2 separate regions of the Homo sapiens genome follow, and region 2 is linked to region 1. Evidence: fine-mapped expression QTL. A gene starts in region 1. The other region holds a variant in brackets. All regions are shown on one strand. Distances are between the middles of the regions.

Evidence for each region. PIP is the estimated chance that this variant, and not a neighbour inherited with it, causes the effect.
Region 2: its variant is the best candidate, but not a certain one, in a credible set for the expression of GRIP1 in blood mononuclear cells (TOPMed, PIP 0.65).

What each region holds. Positions count from the first base shown.
Region 1 is chr12:66,677,694-66,680,614 of GRCh38, forward strand. It overlaps GRIP1 (glutamate receptor interacting protein 1), which reads right to left and starts at 1,383. Exons shown (of 25, transcript NM_001366722.1): 1 at 1,157-1,383. The coding sequence starts at 1,211.
Region 2 is chr12:66,387,149-66,390,069 of GRCh38, forward strand. The region is part of intron 19 of GRIP1 (glutamate receptor interacting protein 1); the gene reads right to left. Among named protein-coding and RNA genes, the nearest start is that of HELB, 86 kb to the left of the region's middle. The variant C/T (reference allele first, on the strand shown) is at 1,598.

The DNA of each region.
Region 1 (2,921 bases):
GTTGGTCTACAGTATTTATTCTCTTTCCTGTTATTGACTCAAGATCTATTTCTCATGATTTGCTTTGTGCTCATTCTTCTGCCAGATAAAATATTAATTGCATTTTTAGCTGCACTGCTGGTGATCAAAGAATTCTGATATGTCAAGCTAAACTGACAGAAATAGCATCCATTAACATATTTATAGGTTCAGAGCTTCTAGAACATAATTATATCCATTAATTACTCAACAGTACTCTATATTACAGGCTGAAAAAGAAAGGCATTTGCAACTAAATACTTTTACTCAGAATGAAGTTTTTTTTTAAATAATAAATTTTCTCTAAGGAAGGTTCTATCTAAAGGAAATAAGGCAAGAGAGCTCACATATCTATATGGACACAAGGCAGGATTTTTAAGGCATCCATTTACTAACTTTGCAATAGAATGCTCACAAAGTAAACGAGATGGCACATCCAGAATGGTTTCAAATAAAATAATACCTTAAATATTACAGAGAAATTTAATTACTATTTTAGAGTTCTAAGAGTGACAATCTGAAGCTGGTAATTCTTGATGATAAGATTCCGAGCAATGATTTTTACTTTCAAATAAACTTCTAGTATTACATAGGACCAAAGCATTTGGAATTACATACTTTTCTGAACATGCAATTCTAACACATAAAGAAATTAAAGCTGTCCAGGGAAAAAGCTCTTAAGATGTTGGAAAGTCATAGAACAAACAATTATTCTGTGGATCCACCAGCTGTGCGAGTCCTGAATCTGCCAGCTGCATTTAGTATATGTATCATAGAAAGGACAGTAACACACACTTGACTCCTTTTGGCCAGTTAATCAGCATGCAAAATGACGGTTTCCCACAATAACTTCAGCACCGGACCCAAACACATTCTCTTTTCAGCAAAGAATGAAGTCATTAAAAAAAAAATCACACAAGCTGCTTTCATAATTTCAGCACGAACACAACCGAGATGTAAGGACAGAAAGCAAAGCCGAGTCTACCTGTACATATGTATCTATACATATTTCACTGAGTTCTTTGTTGCCTGACAATAAATTGCAAAGGCAGTCATATTTGAAAGTAAAAACCATTAAACTGTGTTTATAGGATACTGCAACAGACTCGCTGAGGGAATAACAAGGAAAGCACGATACCTTTAGTAAGTCGCCTCAGAATTTGACAACGGCATTTAAAAGAGACAGCTATCATTCTTGCTCACTGCTTTCTGTGGCAAAGTGTACTCAAGGCTCTCTGCTCTGGTGGCTGCAGCAGCAGCAGCATATGAATTCCTTGCGCACATACCAGGAGAAAGGTAGTCCCAGTGGGGAGTGACAAAGCTTAATTCCTCTTGGCTGATGCAGAGGTCCGCTACATGTCATCTGGCAAATCTGTGTCATTCACTACTACTACCACCCCTGCCTGCCACAGCCTCCTCCCCCTTCACAATCACAATGGCTTAGAAAGTAATGCCGTTTCGATAGCAACAAAGCACCAAATTGTACAAAGCAGGGACGACACTGTGTGAGGAGCCATTCCATAAATCTAACGCTAAGCACTGAACAGTGCATTCTGTTTAAGGCAAAAGGCGATGTATCCAGTCAGTTCAGCCACCATCAGCCCCTTTCCTTCTCAGCATCAAGTCAGTGTCCTTTATATGTCTCATTTAATGGGAAATGCAAGTGAAATGCTTACACTCTTACTTTAGGAAGAAATGCATGGGTCATGTACTATGTTCTTTAAACAACAACCAAAAAAAAAAAAAAAAAAAAGGAAAGAAAAAGAGGGAGGGCCGTTTATATTTGGGATTGAGGAAAGAATCACAGTTCTGCCTATAGCGGGGAAGCAGCTCTAGGACAGAGACCTCTTTGGTACTTCCTGAACCTATGAGAGTTAAGGCAGTGTCTGTTTATAGAGGGAATACAAGAAAGGGTTAGGGCTAGGCAGACAATCAGGCAGATGGAGTCCCAGCCCCTTTAATCACCCTTCCAAAAAAGGACTTGGCTGGAAAGCAACACAGTCAAGACTGTTTCTAAAGATACCAGAAATAAAGGCAAACAAGGCCAAGTATTTCTATTTTTAATATACTTTATTATACTATTTCCCAAACAACCATCCCCCAAACCATTCTTCTCATTATGCAAATAAAACGGTCTTGCGACATAGCAGATATTTGTGAGTATCTGCTCCAATGGAGTGAAGAGCAAATTAACAAACCCTTCACAATCCATTCACAAAGTGATAAGAAGGCGGAGCACACCTCCTCATCTGCCAGCAGCAGCCTGCTCGCCATATAGTCAATACGAACTAACATTTGGTAGGGAATTTTAATCAAAATCCAGAATTCTCCCACAGGAGTTAACATAAACATTCAGGACAAAAAATTAGACAGTTGGCCAGGAAGTTTAAGAAAAAAAAAATCAATTAGTCAAAATGAAAAGATATATCACTGTCTAAACTACTTGATTAATATTTCTAGGACTTTATGAATTATTCATACAGTTTTATTCTCTACTCTTCAGGCTGTGAAAAAACTTTCAAGCTGGTTTTTAAAATAACTTCCAACATTCCAAATTTAGTGGTAAAACTTTCTTTTCTTCATTCATAAATTCAATATGAACTCAAACAATTTCAATCCACTGCTATTGAAATGCATATGCTTTGTATTTTGAGTCCAATAGAAAAATAATTTGTGTGTGAAAAACATCTGAATATCATAAGCATCTACTTTAAAGGTTTTTGAAAAGAACAGAATTCTTTTACCAAGGATGGTCTAGCTAAAGCAACCACTAATCAATAGAAAATACTATATTAAATGGACTGCAGTGCAAAATCAAATTTTTATAATTGTTCTGATTAGCATAAATCTTTCTTTGAATTTCAACCCATATTATGTTCATCTCTATTAGGTTATCCCTAGAA
Region 2 (2,921 bases), 290 kb before region 1:
AAAGCAGGGGCGGTGGCATGAGGCAAAACTCCAATGCTTTGTTTGGAACACCAGTATGCACTGCATGGCTGGTGGCAGAAAGTACATGTGATCCCATCTGGCATCAAGGTAAAGTCAGGGAAAGAGAACACATGTCACAGACTGAAGGGAGCAATTGCTCAATGAGGCAGGATAGCAGAGAGGAATTCTGTTTTGTGAGCAGCCTGCTGTTGCTGCTCTCTGGTAGCTGGGGAAGAATTTACTCACACATACCATGCTGGAACTGGGGTGTGTTTGGTACCTTGGAAACAGAGCCTCTAGCAGCTTCCAGTTCAGGAAGAACTCATCTCATTCAGTGGTGAGCAGTAATTGAAAAGGAATTGGCATAACATGTATACCAAGTAAATATCAGACAAATGAGAGCAAAGGCATAGAAAAACAAAGCGATAGCAGATGAAGAATACTCATGAGAAAAAGCCTGGTTCAGAGCAAATGATAAACATGACCAATCAGAAATAATCACAAAATTTAAAAAATACACAGCAAAGCCATCACCTCTATAAAACAAGAGATCAAAGCAGAAATATAAGAACTCTAGAGAAATTGGGCAAGGCAAGATGATGATGAAACATGAGCTTGTAGAGATCAGAAGAGAAACGAAAGAGAAAAATAAAATCCTGCTAATGAGTAGAGGAGGATACCATTGGGTTTCTACTCTGTGCTATCCTCTGTATGATTTGTATTCTTTAATGACATTAAATAAAGTTGGACTCTGACTGCACATGTTGGTGTCCTTTCAGTTATCATCCTTATGAAAACACAAAGAAGGAATATATCCTTATAAAGCAATGAAAATAAATAAATCATGCATCCAACTTAAGTCATAAAAGGAATAAAATTTAAAAGGAACTGAATGAAAGAGTAAAATTAAAAGTAAAATTGTACGTAAAAAAAAAAACTAGAGTAAAACTAATAAATAAATGCAAGAGTCAGTTCTCTGGGAAAAAATAAAAACCAAACAAAGAAATCAAATAAACTGTTACTAATCGAATCATGGGGAAAATAATAAAACCACAAATATACCAATTAAGGAACAATATTATGGATATAATTATAGAAACTGAGAAAATAAAAAATTAAAAAAGAGATTAATTATATAAAATACATTTGACATCTGGATGAAATAATTTCATTTTCTGAGAGAAAACAAATGATCAAAATGACCTCAAAAGGGAGAAAAATAAGATAGAAATATAGCTATCTGAGTTGAGAGTCCAAAGTTACAGAGAGCACAAGAGCTATTCAGCCCGCGAGCATGGCAGTCTATGTACCACCACCAATTTGCCAGTCTCCTCTTGTATTGACCTTTGCTAAATCCAAGTAAAGCAGTCATAGGGTTTTCTCAGAGTTAGAAGGAAGAATTAATAAGATGCAAGGAGGCCAAATGCCTAAGATTTTGATAAGGCAGAAGGGCATGAGGCATCTAATGGGCAAGACAATGGGGAGTGAAAGAAGCTGACCTGGAGGCCAACTGGAAGAAGTCAGCCACACAGTGGAACTGAGAATCAGCCCCTTGTGGGACTTCCTTAAACATATCCCTTCTTTCCCCACAAGGTTT[C/T]GTCATTCCATTCTATTTCCCTTTTCACTAACGAAGTGATAGGGCCACTGTTTGTTTATTTGTTAACTGACTGTCCCTTCAGCTGGGTAACCTCTTCCATGGGAGCAGAGACCATGTCTCCTTTGTCCAAGAGTGTATCCACATGGTCTATGGGCCTGATATTGAGCCAGTCATTACATACTGGTTGAAGGAATGAATGGAGCAAGCTTGATATTTTAGAGAAGAAGGAGAGAACAGTAAGGAATGTTGCTGCAAAGACATCGATTTCCAGCCCCAGGAGGAAGATGTGCATTATGGAGTCTCCTGGGAACAAGGCAACTATTACAGCCTTAAAGGGAACAGAGAGAATGTGCAGGGGCTTCCTGGAACAAGGCAGAGAGCCTGCTGAGAGGCTGGAGGGACAGGTTGGAGAGATAAGCTGTATCTCACAACATAATATTGAATAGGAAAAATAAAAGTGTGGTTCTATGCCTTGCTTTTATTTTTGTTTTAATTTTTTTTGAGACGTAGTCTTGTTCTATTGCCCAGGCTGGAGTGCAGTGGCATGATCTTGGCTCACTGCAATCTCCGCCTCCTGGTTCAAGCGATTCTCCTGCCTCAGCCTCCCGAGTAGCTGGGATTACAGGTGTGTGCCACCACGCCTGGCTAGTTTTTGTATTTTTAGTAGAGATGGGGTTTCGCCACGTTGCTCAGGCTGGTCTTGAACTCCTGACCTCAGGTGATTTGCCCACCTCAGCCTCCCAAAGTGCTGGGAATATAGGCCTGAGCCACTGCACCCAGCTGTGCCTTGCTTTTAAAAAGTCAACCTCACAAGCACAATCTGGAGAGATGCAGTTTAACTGAATATCACGGGTAAAGAAAAAAAAACACATTCACAAGACTTTGAGATCTCGGTAAACTGTAAGCGCAAAATGAGTGACAGATGTGCCATGACCACTAAAATTCTTATGTTGAGGTAGGTGTCATTGATCAGTTCTCCTGTCTTCAATGATGCCAGTGACCAGCTTGCTTTGCTCCGGGCTGTCGGGCTGTTGTGTGATTTTCCTTTCTGAATGTTACACTTTAACGGGTACACAGGTAAACTGAAGCACATTCGTAAGGGAGGTCCACAGGACGATACAGATACTCGTCAGTAAATTATAGAAGACACAGTTAAAGGAACTGGGGCTATTTTGCTTGGAGAAGGAAAGCCTCAACAGAGACCCAATAGCTGTCTTCGAGTATCTAAGGGGCTGTCAGGAGAAGAGGCTTTAGTCTAGTGCAGAATGACCTTGAGGGTATAGCCGGGACTATTAGGCATACTGCAGCTCAATACAAGTGAGAG